Linked DNA regions of Homo sapiens. The protein of the gene in region 2 purifies or fractionates together with the protein of the main gene of each other region. This does not show direct contact. Each region holds a gene or a part of one and is shown on either strand. Other genes may lie near its edges.

Region 1 (3,500 bases), on a different chromosome or scaffold from region 2:
GAGGCTGAGGTTGGGGAATCACCTGAGCCCAGAAGGCCAAGGCTGCAGTGAGCTGTGATTGAGTCACTCACTGTACTCCAACCTGGGTGACAGAGTGAGACCCTGTTTCAAAAAAAAAGAAAAAGAAAATACTGGGGCAAGATGTCATGAAAACTAATTTTATTATAGTTCAGCAAAAACAAAACTCTCCTTGACCAAGACTCCCTCTAATTTTGTATCTTCATTCCTATTCAAAGGCAAACTCCTTAAAGAGTCTGTATGCCTATGTTCATTTCCTCAGTCCCCATTTACTTTTTCTACCCCACTTTCCCCCGCCACCCTCCCAGCTTAAAATGCTCTGGCCAAGGTCACCAAGGAACCCACTGCCACCCAGGTACCTCCTCTCTGGGTTCAACTCTCAGGGCCACACTTCACCAGTACCTGGCAATACTGGCATCTCTGTATTCTTGAAATGTTCTTTTTTGTATTCTGTATTTCCTGCTGCTTCTCCCATCTGACCTCTTTTGCTTTGTCTCTCTGTGCCAGCTTTGTCTCTTTCCATTCCCCAAATCTTAAGTTTCCAGGACTTCAGTTCCTAGCCCTCTTCTCATTCTACACCACTGGATTTTAACTATTTGGAGGCCACAAATCCCTTTGAGAATCTAAGGAATGTTAAAACCCTCTCCTTGGGAAAAGGCCTATATACTACATGTACACACAATTATTGAATACAATAATTCTTCAATTCTAATCTAATTCTCTTACCTCAATCACCACCTATAAGCTGACAATTCCACATTTATTGTTCTGCTCTTTCCCAAACTTCCGACACACTTATAAAGTGCCTTCTTACCGCTGTCATCAAACATACCAGAGGCCTAAAGGGCAATCAGTAATCTCTCAAGCCTCCTTTTTTTCTTTTTCAGACAGTCTCACTCTGTTGCCCAAGCTGGAGTGCAGTAGTGTGCTCTTGGCTCACTGCAACCTCCAACTCCCAGGTTCAAATGACTCTCTCACCTCAGCCTCCAGAGTAGCTGGGACTACAGATGCACGCCATCATGCCTGGCTAATTTTTGTATTTGTAGTAGACATGGGGTTTCACCATTTTGGGCAGGTTGGTCTTGAACTCCTGAGCTCAAGTGATCCATCTGCCTCAGCCTCCCAAAGTGAGTGATTACAGGTGTGAGCCACTGCGCCTAGGAAGCCTCCTCTTCATTAGCCTTTTCCCTCCCCTCTGCAAAAACCAGAGTGGAAGTACTTGTAATTCCCTAAATACACCACGCACTCACCAGAACTTTTGTTCTGATCCCAGCTGCCGTCTGTGGTCTTTCTCAACTTCCCTGCCTAGCGAATACCTATTCGTCTTTCAAAGCCCTACCAGCAAAAGTAGTCCCTCCTGTGTCACCATCCTTCAGCTATCTGCCTCTTTTGAGGACAGGGACAGTGACTTATTAGACTGTTAACTAGCACACACATTGGCATATAAATTAACACGTGAATTATTAAAGAGAATATAAAAGAAGAAAGGTCACCCAGAACAGAGATCTAAGCTATGTTTCCCAAAAAGTAAAGCTGGCACTCAACTAACATGAACATAAAACTTAGGAAACGTGCTAAAACCCCACATTTCCTCACGGATGGAAATTAACTGTTTCTCCCCAGAACAAAAAACACCCGAAAAATGAGAGATTATTACTATAAAGGAAGAAATATCAGATGACAAAATAATATTTTTATGATGACTTTTTTTTTTTGAGATAGTCTCACTCTGTCACCCAGGCTGGAGTGCAGTGGCACGATCTCAGCTCACTGCAAGCTCAGCCTCCTGGGTTCAAGCAATTCTGCCTCAGCCACCTGAGTAGCTGGGATTACAAGTATGCACCACCACACCCAGTTAATTTTTGTATTTTTAGTAGAGACAGGGTTTCACAATGTTGGCCAGGCTGGTCTCGAACTCCTAGGCTCAAGTGATCTACCAGCTTCAGCCTCCCAAAGTGCTGGGATTACAGGCATGAACCACCACGTCCAGCCTATGATCACTTTAATATCATTAATATCCTCTACTGAAACTGAGGTGGCCTTAATACATATCTCTATATATTTTTACATATATTAATAACTGATCACATTAAAAGGAAACTTTAAACAAAATGCCATATATTTCCCAAGACTTTCAGCAACATTTTTCTTTGAATATAATAATATATATAACAAACCTTATATTAGTAATCGTTTCTGTCCACAAATGGTCAATACACAGTTCAGGAACAATTGGCTCCGTTTCTGGTGCAAGAAAGGAGCCATTAGAATTACTATTTGGAGAATGAGAAATACTATGTCTCTTTGGAGACTGATTATGGCTTGAAATGTTGAACCTTTGCACCCCTGAAAAAGAGTGCACTCCTAACGCAGGAGAATGAGCACGACTGCAAAATAAACAGAGGAGAGAGTACATCACAGTTAGCAAGGCAGGCTTATATGACACACACTCCAATGACACTTCCAAAAATTCCACAGACAGAAGAGCATTCATGGCATAATCCAGGTCAGAAATTAAAATTTTTCAAAAAGGAGTAGCTATTTAAATGGTTCATGTCAATGTGCTTTACTATATTCTAAAGATTTAGAATTATTATTAGAAGAACTCATCTTTTACAACTAAAACTTAGATCATCTTCTTTTTCGGAAAATGAATGATTATTCAAAAAGCTCTAAACTATGTCCCTGTATAGTCAGACATATATATTTATCAACAAAACAATGTCCCTGTAGCACCAGATATACATATCTGGTCATTTAAATATATATCTATATAGAGAAATAGATACATTTACATATCAAATAACAAGTAAAAAAAAAAGAAAAACTAACATAAATTAAGGCAAAAATAAAATAGTGCCACAGTATTTTGGGAATTAATATTCATCAAACTGTTGCCCACATAGTGGTAGAAATGAGGCAACTAACCTTAGGTCAAGCATAGGCAGCTTCAAAATATGACTCAGGAAAGAATGTGACATGGTAAACTTAGAAATCTTAGTAAAAGTGGCTCAGGGCTGAGCACGGTGGCTCACGCCTGTAATCCCCGCACTTTGGGAGGCCAAGGCAGGCAGATCACAAGGTCAGGAGATCGAGACCATCCTGGCTAACACGGTGAAACCCCATCTCTACTAAAAATACAAAAAAAAAAAAAACTCAGCCAGGCATGGTGGCAGGCGCCTGTAGTCCCAGCTGGAGGCTGAGGCAGGAGAATGGCATGAACCCGGGAGGCAGAGTTTGCAGTGAGTCAAGATTGCGCCACTGCACACCAGCCTGGGTGACACAGCAAGACTCCGTCTCAAAAAAAAAAAAAAAAAAAAAGGCTCAATTGGGATAATGGCTATTTCCCCTAAAAAACATCTCCCCTAAATATATTTCCCCTAAAAACAGCTGTCAACAGAAATTCTAAATCCTTCAAAACAAAACAGAAAGCTTAGAAAGAAAAACCAGGAAACCCTTATACCTTAGAGCTGCCATGTTGG
Region 2 (5,573 bases):
AACAGATTCTCAGAATCAAATCAAGAACAAAGCACCCTCCAAACTTTGGAGACTAGCTATAATTCCAAAATGTATGAAATAAATGTGATGTGTGGTTTTTTGGTGAAGACTCTCATTGTAATATATATCCTGTAAGAATTTAGCACCATAGTTTTTAATCATTTTTTGGTGACTCTTCAAATTCTTTTTTTTTGAGACAGAGTCTCGCTCTGTCACCCAAGCTGGAGTGCAGTGGTGTGATCTCAGCTCACTACAACCTCTGCCTCCTGGGTTCAAGCAATTCTGCTGCCTCAGCCTCCCAAGTAGCTGGGACTACAGGCACGCACCACCATGTGTGGCTAATTTCTATATTTTTAGTAGAGACAGGGTTTTACCATATTGGCCAGGCTGGTCTCGAACTGCTGACCTCGTGATCTGCCCGCCTCGGCCTCCCAAAGTGCTAGGATTACAGGAGTGAGCCACCGTACCCGGCCTCAAATTCTTTTACTATCTTATAATTGTGGATTAGAGCCATGTGAAAAAACCCTGTCTCATTATAGTAAAATAATGATGTTACCTCCTAAGTTTTATTTTGTAAAACAGTTAAACCTCACAAATGTCATCTAGGGCAAATAGTGCAACTTACCTGGATTTACCAACTAAATTTTGAAATGGAAGCACAGAATCTTAAGAGTCTATTATGGTGGCTCCAGAGATATCTGTAAATGAATTAAAAATCCATCACCAGAACTGAAAAATCAAATAAAATTTTCTGCCATAACACAATCCTATTTGCTCTAGCATTCTTGCTCTTTGCTGTTGAGAGCTCAGATACGCTACTGCAGGGGCTACTCGGGAATTTATTCCAATGGCGCTAGTTTTATTAAACCCTCATAAAAAATTCCTAAACTGATGTTTTGCAGCAAGCTTTAGTGTGTTTATTATATAGAATACATATGAAATGTTGACGTACATTTCATGTACATCAATGTACATGACATACATGACTCCTTTTAAAAAATATTTCCTGGCCGGGCGCGGTGGCTCACACCTGTAATCCCAACACTTTGGGAGGCTGAGGCGGGCGGATCACTTGAGGTCAGGAGTTCGAGACCAGCCTGGCCAACATGGCGAAACCCCATCGCTACTAGAAATACAAAAAATTAGCCGGGCATGATGGTGTGTGCCTGTAGTCCCAGCTACTCAGGAGGCTGAGGCAGGAGAATCGCTTGAACCTGGGAAGCGGAGGTTGCAGTGAGCCAAGATCGTGCCACTGCACTCCAGCCTGGGGGACAGAGCCAGACTCCATCTCAAAAATACAAACAACAACAACAACAACAAGCCCATTTCTTTAAGCTGTAAGAGTGTCCACTGTATTGTAGTACCATAATAATTTTACAGAAGCAATTAGATGATGTAGTTTAAAGAAATTCTGATTAAGAATATAATTTTAAGCAAACTCTTTTCCATGTAAATACTTTCAAAGACAGAAATAACTGACATCATCCTTCCAACTTTATTCCTACTAATTCTTGGTCTTGTAAGGCACGTAAAAATTATTCTAATTTTGAAAATTGGAACAAGACAGCCCATTTTAGAGATAAACATAGGATCAAAACTCAGTTATCTTTAATTCTTTTATTTCTTTCTTCATTATGCCAGGCTAGTTCTAAATGCCTAAAATACATTAAAATGGAACAGAAAATCTTAAAAGGATGTTAATTTTAAGTTTCTTACTAATCTTTCCTCATAGAAATAAAGAAGCCATAACTGTTAAGCACATTTTCTAAGATTGTATATAATCATTTATAGGTTAAGACTTTTTTGGCATTGAAGATAGTAAACTTTTTATGAATGTAATTATTAAAGTATAATCAACTCACATCTTTGGGTTTATATTGGTCTTAACATGTTTCATAGTTTGCAGTATTTGAAGAATCTGAAGATGACAGGCACAGCCGTCACTTACCCATGACCGTCACCTTCCTAAAGCTGTCTCGATATCTACTGTGGACACTCAGGTTAGCGGAGAGAAAACAACTGCATTACACTACATTTTTAAGCAAACCAAAGAACTTTATTTGGAGTAATAGCTAAGAAAACAGCTTTTTATGGAAACTGAAAAAGAGAGCAGAGGAAGTATAAGAGCTACCCCTTAAGAAATAACTTTAATAGTTAAAAAACTTTCGTAGAATCTTACTAAAAAGGAGGCAACATTAGTTTAAAAAATAACTGAACAAGAATCTGGCCTAATAACCAGACCTCGGATTAGCATACTTTCTAGTTATAGATGTAAATCTTCAAAGTACATATATTCAGTACAAGTCAAAAAAAAAATAAAATAAAATAGTGCCAGACCATCCTTTACTTTTTCATGTCCTTGAAATGAGAAGAGTAATGTACTTAAGTAATTCCTTCTTAAGAATGTCCCTTAAACTATAACAACTTCATAGCATCTTGACTTAGAATATACCACATTTTCCAAGTCCTATTTGTCTATTTATATTCATTATATATAAGTAACCATGACAACAGAATTGAAGTTCCGCTTAAAAGACTCTTGCCCTTTCCAACTTTTACTTTAAGTTGGATCCCTGTTATCAGTAATACTTAGATGAACCTCCCCTTTCAAAGTAGTAAAAACTAAAGCATTAAATTAGTACCTAAAATCAAAGTACAGTTGTTATTTATAAAACTATTGTGTTGTATCCTGACATGTGGCAACAAAGATAATATAAAATGTACTCAGAGACTAATGCCATTATGAACAGAAAAGACTATATATAAATATATAATCTTTATATATATATAAAAATCTTTTTTAAAAGATTTTTAAAATAAAATTTATAAAAAAGATTTTTTATATATATAAAAAGATTATATATATAAAACATATATATATATTTTTTTCTGGAACAACTTAAAAATCAATTTTAAAAAAACTGATTAATTCACTATTGGACAGATGTTCAAATGCTAAATTTAAAATTCAGCATTATCTTCTCTCTCTTGAAATATAGGTTATATAAACAGTAAAAGTACAGTAAGTTAAAAAACAAAAGAAAATAAAGCCTTGGTTTAGTATAGCTCAAGCTTATATACACAGCAGGTATAGTAACTTGTTCACCAGAACAGAGCATCGAATAACATTGAATGAAAATTATGGCCCCCAAAAGCAGAACCTCAAAGCCAGGTTGTGGCCAGGTGAATTATTTAACCTCACTGTGCCCATGTTCACAGGCCTGATCCTTAACAAAATCTATGAATACAAACTAAATCCAAGACATGTTGAATTGATGTTTTGTAAAATGCAGTAACACCTTACTGTTAAAGGTGCTAAGGAAAAAAGCATTCAGCATACATGCTACAGAGCCTGAGCACTGAAAAATGAAAATCTTATTGTGGCTACAGATCAAAAATTCATACTGAAAAAGATATTTGTCATTTAACATGGAACCTTTCCAATACATTTTAAGGGCATACTGAAAAGGCTAGTAGTGAAAAACGGCGGTAACAATGAGATAACATACTTTGTTATATAAAAGCCTAAGTTTCATAGAAAAAAAATTCTAATTTGAAAAGTCAACAACATTAAACCCTATCTGCCATTACCAATTCCATCAAGATTACTAGGTCTTTAAATGTGGGACTGGTAAAAATAATACTTCCAGGGTTCAATCAAATAAATCAAAGTAAACCAAAACAAGAAAATTAGCTAATACTTAAAGCAGCAGCCTCAACAAATGTGTGATTTATTTCCCTTTTTGTTCAAATTTTAGTTTTTTCAGGCCTTATAAATACTTGCTGGAATTTCTAAAGCATTTCTTTCTTACGCTAAGTCTTCTCTAATAACATAATAAATACTGAATTACCTAAAACACTGTCCGACACACCTCAGGATCTGCTTCTCGGCTCTTCATGCTGATAGTGCCATTTTACTGATTCAACAAATACTTGGTTTGCAACTGATGTGGTCCTTAAACTATTCACGAGTTAGAAGACTAGCTCTAAAACCTACCTCATTTCTAAGAGTCATAAATAGGACTTTACCTGAATGCATGAAAACACAAAAGGGAAGCTTCTAAGTTGAACTTTCTAATATTCATATTTGAAATGGTTTGGAATGATTGATCAAACTTTTAAGATCTAACTCAGTGCACTTATACAACAACTAGATACCTCTGGTGAATTACAAGAATTGCTCCAATAGAAGCGTCTCTCAATCTGCTCATCAAATCTAGATCAGCTCTACCAGTGAAAACAAATTTCAAGATTTGTTTCATAATAAGTGTTAAATCTCATACAATCGAGCTATGTCATGCCACATAAGTTCTAAAGCAAATGAAAAACAAAGCCAGCCAAATTTAGGAGCTGAGCTCATGGTATAACACTTATAAAGAAATGAAAATAACACAAATTGAAAACTATAGTGACCATCTTGGGTACGACATGCAATGATACTATCACTACTATTTTGACAGCATGACAACTGAATAATTAGAAGATACACATGCATACCACTATTTCTCTATTAAGAACACATACATCTCATATAAATACATCCTCAGGAAACACTTTTTACATTAAATCGTTTTTTGACAATAATTTTGCACTGAATAACAATACATTACAACTCACTGTTGTACACCTTCAATTGCTAAAACGGTATTCTAGATGTTTACACAGAGAATTATAGGAATATGCACGAGCACTTCAAGAAAAGTTGTGTGAACAATGTTTAAAGTAAAAAAGTGTTTTATAACCAAGCTGTACGGACATTAGGGGGTTTAGGTCTTCTTCGAGGGTGGCCACTGGAGGGGTCAACCGCTGATCGCTCACTCCTACAACTGAGACCACTCGTAGCACTGGATGTCCTGGAAGCTCCTGAAAATATAAAAAGAAGAAATATCTGAGAAACTTCTCCTCACTTGAAGTCCAGACTAGTTTTTCTTCCACATTCTATGTGTGTCTAATAGTCTAATGCTATGATTCTCGACTAGGATGCACTTCAGAATTCCCTGTGGAAGTTAAAAAATATAATAACAAACATATCCAGATGCCACACCAGGGGATTTTGATTCACTGGATTGGCGTGGAAAACAAACATTTTTAAAAGCTTCTCAAATAATTCACGTGAAAAAAATGACTTTGTATAACCATTTATATATCTAATCAACAAATAACTTACTACATTTAGGGACAATGCTAAGTATGAGTTACTAAAATAAGACCCTTTCTTAGTCACTATACCACGGAAGCAAGGTTTGGAGAAGGAATAAATGGAACTACTAGTCTTGAGAGTTGAAGACTCACGAGGGCGGGCGCTGGGAAGTTGTGGCATCGGGCGGTTTGGTATTCCCTTCTATTTATTATATGGTTTAGAATGCATACATGAAGTACAGCAGAGACTTCTGTAAAGGACACTGGCCTTTCTAGATGTTGCACACTCCAGCACTAAATGGTCACTCCATTCCTGTACTCTCTGGGGCACACAGCTGGCTAGGTCTGTAACTGATCACACAACAAGCCTTACTGCTTACTGTAAAGCGGTAAGGCTTGTTGTGTGATCAGCTTGCTAATTTTTGTTTTAGTTA
Region 3 (3,500 bases), about 160 Mb from region 2:
ATAAGCATATTTATTCAAAATTATAGGAGCATGACTCCCTTTCCTTGCCTTAGACTTCCATCAAATCCATAAAGTGATCATCTGAACATCAGTGACTAGAAGATAGCCAATCAGCTGTTCTAACACCTGCCCTTATTGCCAAAGCCCCACCAGCTCCACTTCACAATCCTGTCCCCACTTAAGTTGTATCAATGGGAAAAGAGCCCTTTTGGCAAATCTGAGGAAGCAGTTTGAAGTCAGACGAAGCCATTTGAAAGAAATTATGATCTTAGCCTTTTATGAATCAAACTGATTTTTCTCATGTACCTCAAGGTAAAGACATACATCATGCATTCTTTAACTCTCTCCATGGGAAACTTCAGCTGCTTTACCTGCACAAACTTGGTGAGACGAGAATCCATCTGCATTAGTATTTCTTCCCATGCTTCACACATACATGTTAGTGACAAATTTATATACTATTAGCAAAAAAGAAAAATTGAAATGGTAAAAAATATTTAAACCAACTTGCTATCTAAATAATATGTGCTTATGATCAAGTGTCTCAAAGAAATCTAGAATTTACTTTCAATCACTGTTTTATTTTTATTATTTATTTATCGAGACAGAGTCTTGCTCTGTCGTCCAGGCTGGAGTGCAGTGACGCCATCTTGGCTCACTGCAACCTCTGCCTCCCAGGTTCAAGCGATTCTCCTGCCTCAGCCTCCCAAGTAGCTGGTATTATATGCGTGCGTCACCATGCCCAGCTAATTTTTGTATTTTTAGTAGAGACGGGGCTTTACCATGTTGGCCAGGCTGGTCTCGAACTCCAAGCCTCAAGTGATCCACCTGCCTCAGCCTCCCAAAGTGCTGGGATTATAGGTGTGCGCCACTGTGCCCAGCCTCAATCACTCTTTTAACTCAGTTAAGATGGAGAAAAAGACAACAGCTTGGTCATCACTTAACTACGAAACATTCCATTGATTCTTAGAATTTCATAATAAAACATTCTTAAATTTTTATCTGGTGAAACAAATATCTCCAAGCTTTTTATATAAGATATGTCTTATCTACACTAACTGTCAAAATACTGGTTTGGTCAATTATTCAATTTTAAAAAGATACTGATCTCTAGAAACCTTTAATATCAAATAAATTAATGACTGTGGTAGAATGAAAAACATGGCCACAATCTTTTGTAGCCCCTCCAGTCAGATGCAGAGTCCATTTCTTCAGCCCTTGAGTCTCGCTTTGACTAACGGAATGCAGCAGAAATAACACTGTTGACTCCAGGGCCTCAAAAGTCTTTGTACACTTCCACTTGCACCCTCGATGCCCCGTTACCACCACCATGTGGACAAGCCTGTGCTGGCTCGCTGGAGTATGAAGGATGTGGAGTAGAGACAAGGAATCACAGCCAAGGGACACATACCAGCTGGCATGACCAAGTCTAGTCAAGATCAGCTGAACCTTCTCCAGGTCACCCAAACATCTTGGCTAAGCTGAGCCTAAATCACCAACCTACAGAATTGGGAGGTAATTTGGGGTGGGTTTATTATGAACAAATGTAAACTCATGTGAAGACTGTTTTTCCCACAATACTTTATAATGTAAATGGTATTTTATTTATGGGAGTATTTTAAAAGATTTAAACTCTTTTGGAGGTGGAAAATAGGGTGCGGTGAAAGTAGGTTCTCAATTAAATGTCCTTTTCCTGCTTTAATGGACCTTATAAGATCATCTATCAGACTAGATACCTCTACTTCAGAAAGCTTTACAAAACAAAATTTTGAAGCTTTTTATTTACAGAACTTTAGAAGCCGATAATAAATATTCACATAAAACAAGCTCTAAATAAATACCTGTAACAGAGCTGAAATATGAGTAAACTTTCTGGCCATCCGAGTTACTTCAGGTAAGAAAGAGTACAACAGATTAGTTTCAAGCTGTAAAATCAAAAGAGTAAAGTGAGTCATCATCAGATGCACTTGCTGCAAAGTCTGTAATTTAGAGTGTGGGTCAAACTACGTATCAGAAAGACTATGTCAGAATTGTGCCCTCTTTGAGCAGAACGGTTTGGAAACAGCACATAGCCTTAGGATCTCCTAACCTACACATAACCATACACAAATCACTCTCTCTGGGTTATCAACCCCTCCTGTGTAGATAGAATAAATGTAATATAACCTATTTTGAAACAGTATTACAAAGAAATGTTTAAATCACAAATATATGTAAAAACTTAAAGGAAGTATAAGGAATTAAAGGCTACTGATAAATATTGGGAAAATATCTATCAATGGTATATGAATTGTATCTTAATAAATTTGTCATTAAAAATGATCTGTTACCAACTTCACAGTAGTAGTGAATCATTTTATTATAATCCAAATGCAATCCTGGTGATCATAGTTTCACATAACCTTAAGAAGATGAGCAAATATGAACAACCATTACCATAGTGAACAGTAAACCAAGAGTTCTCTGATGCTCTGAATACAAAGAGAATGTTGGAAGACATCACACACATTGCATCTTGCATCTTTTTTGTTCTACTTTTGTTTGAGAGTTCACACATACTTAAGTGGCTGGGATATTTAAGATGAAAATTTTCGATTTCTTGGCAAGGCTATGATCTAAATACTCTATGGGAGCCCAGTTAGCTTCCTTAATCTACAATGCAGACAGCACGCAATAAAGCATTTTCCCAATATTAAGTGATCATTTTACACAAGATGCAATGTGCTAGTTAAGAGCACAGATTATGCAGCCAGATTGTCTAGCATCACTTTCCCATCCTGTGACATCAAGCAAGTTCTGAAGTATTTGTGTGTCCATGTACTTACCTATAAAATGGGGATAATAACAGTATCTGCCTATTATGATGCTGTGAAGATTCAAATCAACTGTTCTGAAGCATTCAGCATATGGCACATATTAAACAATCAATAAATATTAACCTTTGTTATTATCAGGGACAGAGTCCTAAGCAAACACTTGGTACAAAGTCAAACTGGAATAGCAACAAATTAATATGGTCATTAATAGACCACCAAAACACTTTTTATGAAAACTGTATTGGAGCATGGGAAGAATAATATGGTATTCACTATAATAACACTCAGTATATTAGGATGTAGAAATTCCAAGTCGATTTTTTTGCATTATTTTAATGATCATTACAATACAGTGAGATGTGGATAAAAACCTATATAAAACCTGTTAAATACATATTTACTCTCTACCGTTATCAAGTTCCAATACTCACCTGAAAGTATGAAACTTCTGAAGCACCATTGGTAGAGACTTCTGTGACCACTGATAATGATTTCAAATCACTTGATAAACATAATGCAAGACAAGTACCAGCAATCTGTAAAAGAGTCAAACCCCTTAGTATATTTAGTATCACTGCTAGGTTGAAGCTGATTATCATGCAGAAAGCAAAAACTCAGAGCTTTAAAAAGCAGAAACAAATTCCCAGCTCCAGCCACACACATGTAGCAGATGAAGGTAGGTGT
Region 4 (3,349 bases), on a different chromosome or scaffold from region 2:
GCTCGGATGGAAAAACTAGCTGGTTTGGTAGAAGAGCTGGAGGCTGACGAGTGGCGGTTTAAGCCCATCGAGCAGCTGCTGGGATTCACCCCCTCTTCAGGTTGATACTGCCTGGATGGTCACCTCTGGTGCGCAGCAAGTGCAAAGCCAGTGGGGGACTTTCTCACAGCTTACATAGCCATCCAGAGATCCACAGCTACGTCACTGAATTGTTAATGCACATTTGTACTTGGTTTCTCTGTATCTATTCACAGGCAACAAATACTTATATGTGTGATCTTTCAGGGAATGTTTTGTTTATTTGTTTTTAAAAGTATTGGGAATCAGATTAAGACAATCAGTTTCAGAGAACCAGGAGGTTTGGGGTTAAGAGATACTCAAAAATTTTCACAAGCCAAGTAGGGCATATATCAGATTTGGCCAACTGAATGGCGTCTGTCCTGTCATCCATATGGTGCCTGGAAATATTTACCAGTCAAGGTCAAGGTCAGCATCTGTGGTTAAAAATATAGCATTCTGACCTAAAAAAGTTATTTTGCAGATGAATGTGTTTTCAACTCAGGACCTATCCAAATGAGGAATTTTTAAATATTCTTTTTTTTTTCCTATTTTTAGACATCAATTCTATAGATTCTGACTTTTTCTAACCTCTTATAGACATGCCAAATGCTGGCAAAAAGAAGTGCTTTTTGGATATGGCAGCACTTGTAAAAATAAAGCAGTAAGCAAAATCCTTTTAAACACAGAAATCCTGAGTTCTTCTCATTGGTGGACTCAAGCAATTCTGTAGCAAATAAATCCTTTGAAAGAGCTCCAAATTGGTGGCATTATCCTTTCAAAATCTCAGGGATTTGGGATGAAGTGAAGAGGTCAAATTACTTTTTAGAAGAAGGGAATCTAAAAACCATCTCTCCTAAACAAATGGTAGACTGGCTTTACTTAAGGGATATTTGTCTTTATAGGAGTACATAAATTTATCTTAATGATATTTAAGTAGTTTTTTTTTTTTTTTGAGACGAAGTTTTGCTCTTGTTGCCCAGGCTGTATCGCAATGGCGCGATCTCTGCTCACTGCAACATCCACCTCCCAGGTTCAAGCAATTCTCCTGCCTCAGCCTCCCAAGTAGCTGGGATTACAGGCACCCGCCACCACACCCAGCTAATTTTTTGTATATTTAGTAGAGACGGGGTTTCACCATGTTGACCAGGCTAGTCTCGAACTTCTGACCTCAGGTGATCCACCTGCCTCAGCCTCCCAAATTGCTGGGATTACAGGCGTGAGCCACCTTGCCCAGCCAATTTTTTTTTAAAGAGACATGGTCTTGCTATGTTGCCCAGGTTGGTCTTGAACTCCTGGCCTCAAGAGATCCCCCCAACCTTGGCCTCCAAAGTGCTGGGATTACAGGCATGAGCCACCGCGCCTGGCCTCAAGTAAGTTTTTATACCATGATAGGGGAAAACCTGGAAGGCTAAGAGATGTGCTGTTTTCCTTCATGGGACCCCACTTTCCACAGTAAACAACTGGTATAATCATTTATTACGTTGTATGCAAATTTTGCCTTAGACAACATTTGTCTGGTTCCTTATTAATAACTTGCATCTGATCTGCTTAGAGTTGCTTAATTATAAGTAAATATAATCCCAGTAGCATTTAGCCTTAATCTCAAGAGTTCAAAATGTTTAACACATTCTACCTGACGGGAGGTGGTGACCTCATTCAGTCGGTTAAGAGCCTGAGCCCTGTGAAGTTAAACACCTGCTCATGGTCACATAGCCCAGGCAGAAGAAAATCTCGGACTTGGAATAGATCCCAGTTGCCTGATAATTCATCTCATTATTGCCTCTAAAGCAAATTGGAGACTGGGCACAGTGGCTCCCACCTTTAATCCCAGCACCTGGGGAGGCTGAGGTGAGTGGATCACTAGAGGTCAGGAGTTCAAGACCAGTCTGGCCGACATGGTGAAACTCAGTCTCTATTGAAAATACAAAAATTAGCTCAGTGTGGTGGCACACACTTGTAATCCCAGCTACTCAGGAGGCTGAGGCATGAGAATCGCTTAAACCCAGGAGGCGGAGGTTGCAGTGAGCTGAGATCACACCATTGCACTCTAGTCTGGGTGACAGAGCGAGACTCTGTCTCAAAAAAAAAAAAATAAAGCCGGGCGTGGTGGCTCACGCCTGTAATCCCGGCACTTTGGGAGGCTGAGGCAGGCGGATTGCCTGAGATCGGGAGTTCGAGACCAGCCTGGCCAACATGGTGAAACCTTGTCTCTACTAAAACTACAAAAAAAATTAGCCAGGCGTGGTGGCGGGCGCCTGTAATCCCAGCTACTCAGGAGGCTGAGGCAGCAGAATCGTTTGAACCCGGGAGGCGGAGGTTGCAGTGAGTGGAGATCGTGCCTGTGTGCTCCAGCCTGAGCAACAAGAGCGAAACTGTCTCAAAAAAAAGAAGAAAATAAATAAATAAAAATCAGAGCACAAGAAGTACCAGTCCACCAACTCACATTTTCTATATTAATAATTCTTAACTAAAAGAAGTTCCATATTCGACAGCATTTTAGTTTTTTAATAGTACTTATTAGCATCAACCATCTTGATAATCACCAAGGGAAAAATTAAAAATACCTAGACTGCAATAAACCTTTAAATTGGATTTTCAGTGAGAATTTAGAAGCAATCACTACCTTTCTCGTTTCATTTGTGTAACCATGCAGCATAGGCACTGTGTTACATCATCTTTACGCTTTGGTATTTGAACTTATTACAGAATTTTTTCTCTAAATTGGATGTTTCTTTATATGACCTTGGAAACTGAAGTGATCTTAGCATTAAACAAAAATGCTTTTTGAAGCACCTTTCTCATTGATCACTTAGCTGCTATTTTAGTCTTACCAAGAATAAGACTCTCACAATTTTTTAAAGAGAGTACCTCCCTCTCTATACCTTTTTGTCAGTCATTATGTTGCATCGTCCACAACGCCTGTTACTATGCTTTGGGCTCAAAGATGGTCCCAGTTGCTGATCTGTCATCTGTCTTCTCTTGTGCCAGTCACTCACAGGCATGAATTATAATCCTCTGAATAACACAGCAAGATACGTAATACCCCCTAATATAGAAAAGGAACTTGAAGCTCAGAGCAAGTGTCACTTGCCAAGGCTGCACAGCTAAGTCAATGGCCAAATCTGGATTTAAGTTCAACTCAGCCAGAATCCAAAGCAGCTTCTTTTAGATTCACTATGCCACATCCCACCAAACCCAACCCAGCACATTGTATTAGGAAAAATCCTAAAACTTTTGATTAAATGGTAAAAGGAAGTAACTACCTGGAGAAAATAAGGCTTCCGCTACC

Evidence for each region.
Region 1: the proteins of CFAP97 (region 2) and ANAPC1 purify together in Homo sapiens (affinity purification with mass spectrometry; one large-scale study listed by BioGRID and IntAct). This does not show direct contact.
Region 3: the proteins of CFAP97 (region 2) and ANAPC4 purify together in Homo sapiens (affinity purification with mass spectrometry; one large-scale study listed by BioGRID and IntAct). This does not show direct contact.
Region 4: the proteins of CFAP97 (region 2) and ANAPC16 purify together in Homo sapiens (affinity purification with mass spectrometry; one large-scale study listed by BioGRID and IntAct). This does not show direct contact.

What each region holds. Positions count from the first base shown.
Region 1 is NC_000002.12:111,860,194-111,863,693, forward strand, and holds part of ANAPC1 (anaphase-promoting complex subunit 1), read right to left. Parts: coding exon 3,482-3,500; intron 2,406-3,481; coding exon 2,196-2,405; intron 1-2,195. UniProt on the Homo sapiens protein: Component of the anaphase promoting complex/cyclosome (APC/C), a cell cycle-regulated E3 ubiquitin ligase that controls progression through mitosis and the G1 phase of the cell cycle.
Region 2 is NC_000004.12:185,158,063-185,163,635, forward strand, and holds the end of CFAP97 (cilia- and flagella-associated protein 97), read right to left. Parts: intron 4,864-5,573; coding exon 4,736-4,863; 3' UTR 1,603-4,735; downstream 1-1,602.
Region 3 is NC_000004.12:25,390,763-25,394,262, reverse strand, and holds part of ANAPC4 (anaphase-promoting complex subunit 4), read right to left. Parts: intron 3,353-3,500; coding exon 3,248-3,352; intron 1,926-3,247; coding exon 1,842-1,925; intron 459-1,841; coding exon 372-458; intron 1-371. UniProt on the Homo sapiens protein: Component of the anaphase promoting complex/cyclosome (APC/C), a cell cycle-regulated E3 ubiquitin ligase that controls progression through mitosis and the G1 phase of the cell cycle.
Region 4 is NC_000010.11:72,233,012-72,236,360, forward strand, and holds the end of ANAPC16 (anaphase-promoting complex subunit 16), read left to right. Parts: coding exon 1-105; 3' UTR 106-2,849; downstream 2,850-3,349. UniProt on the Homo sapiens protein: Component of the anaphase promoting complex/cyclosome (APC/C), a cell cycle-regulated E3 ubiquitin ligase that controls progression through mitosis and the G1 phase of the cell cycle.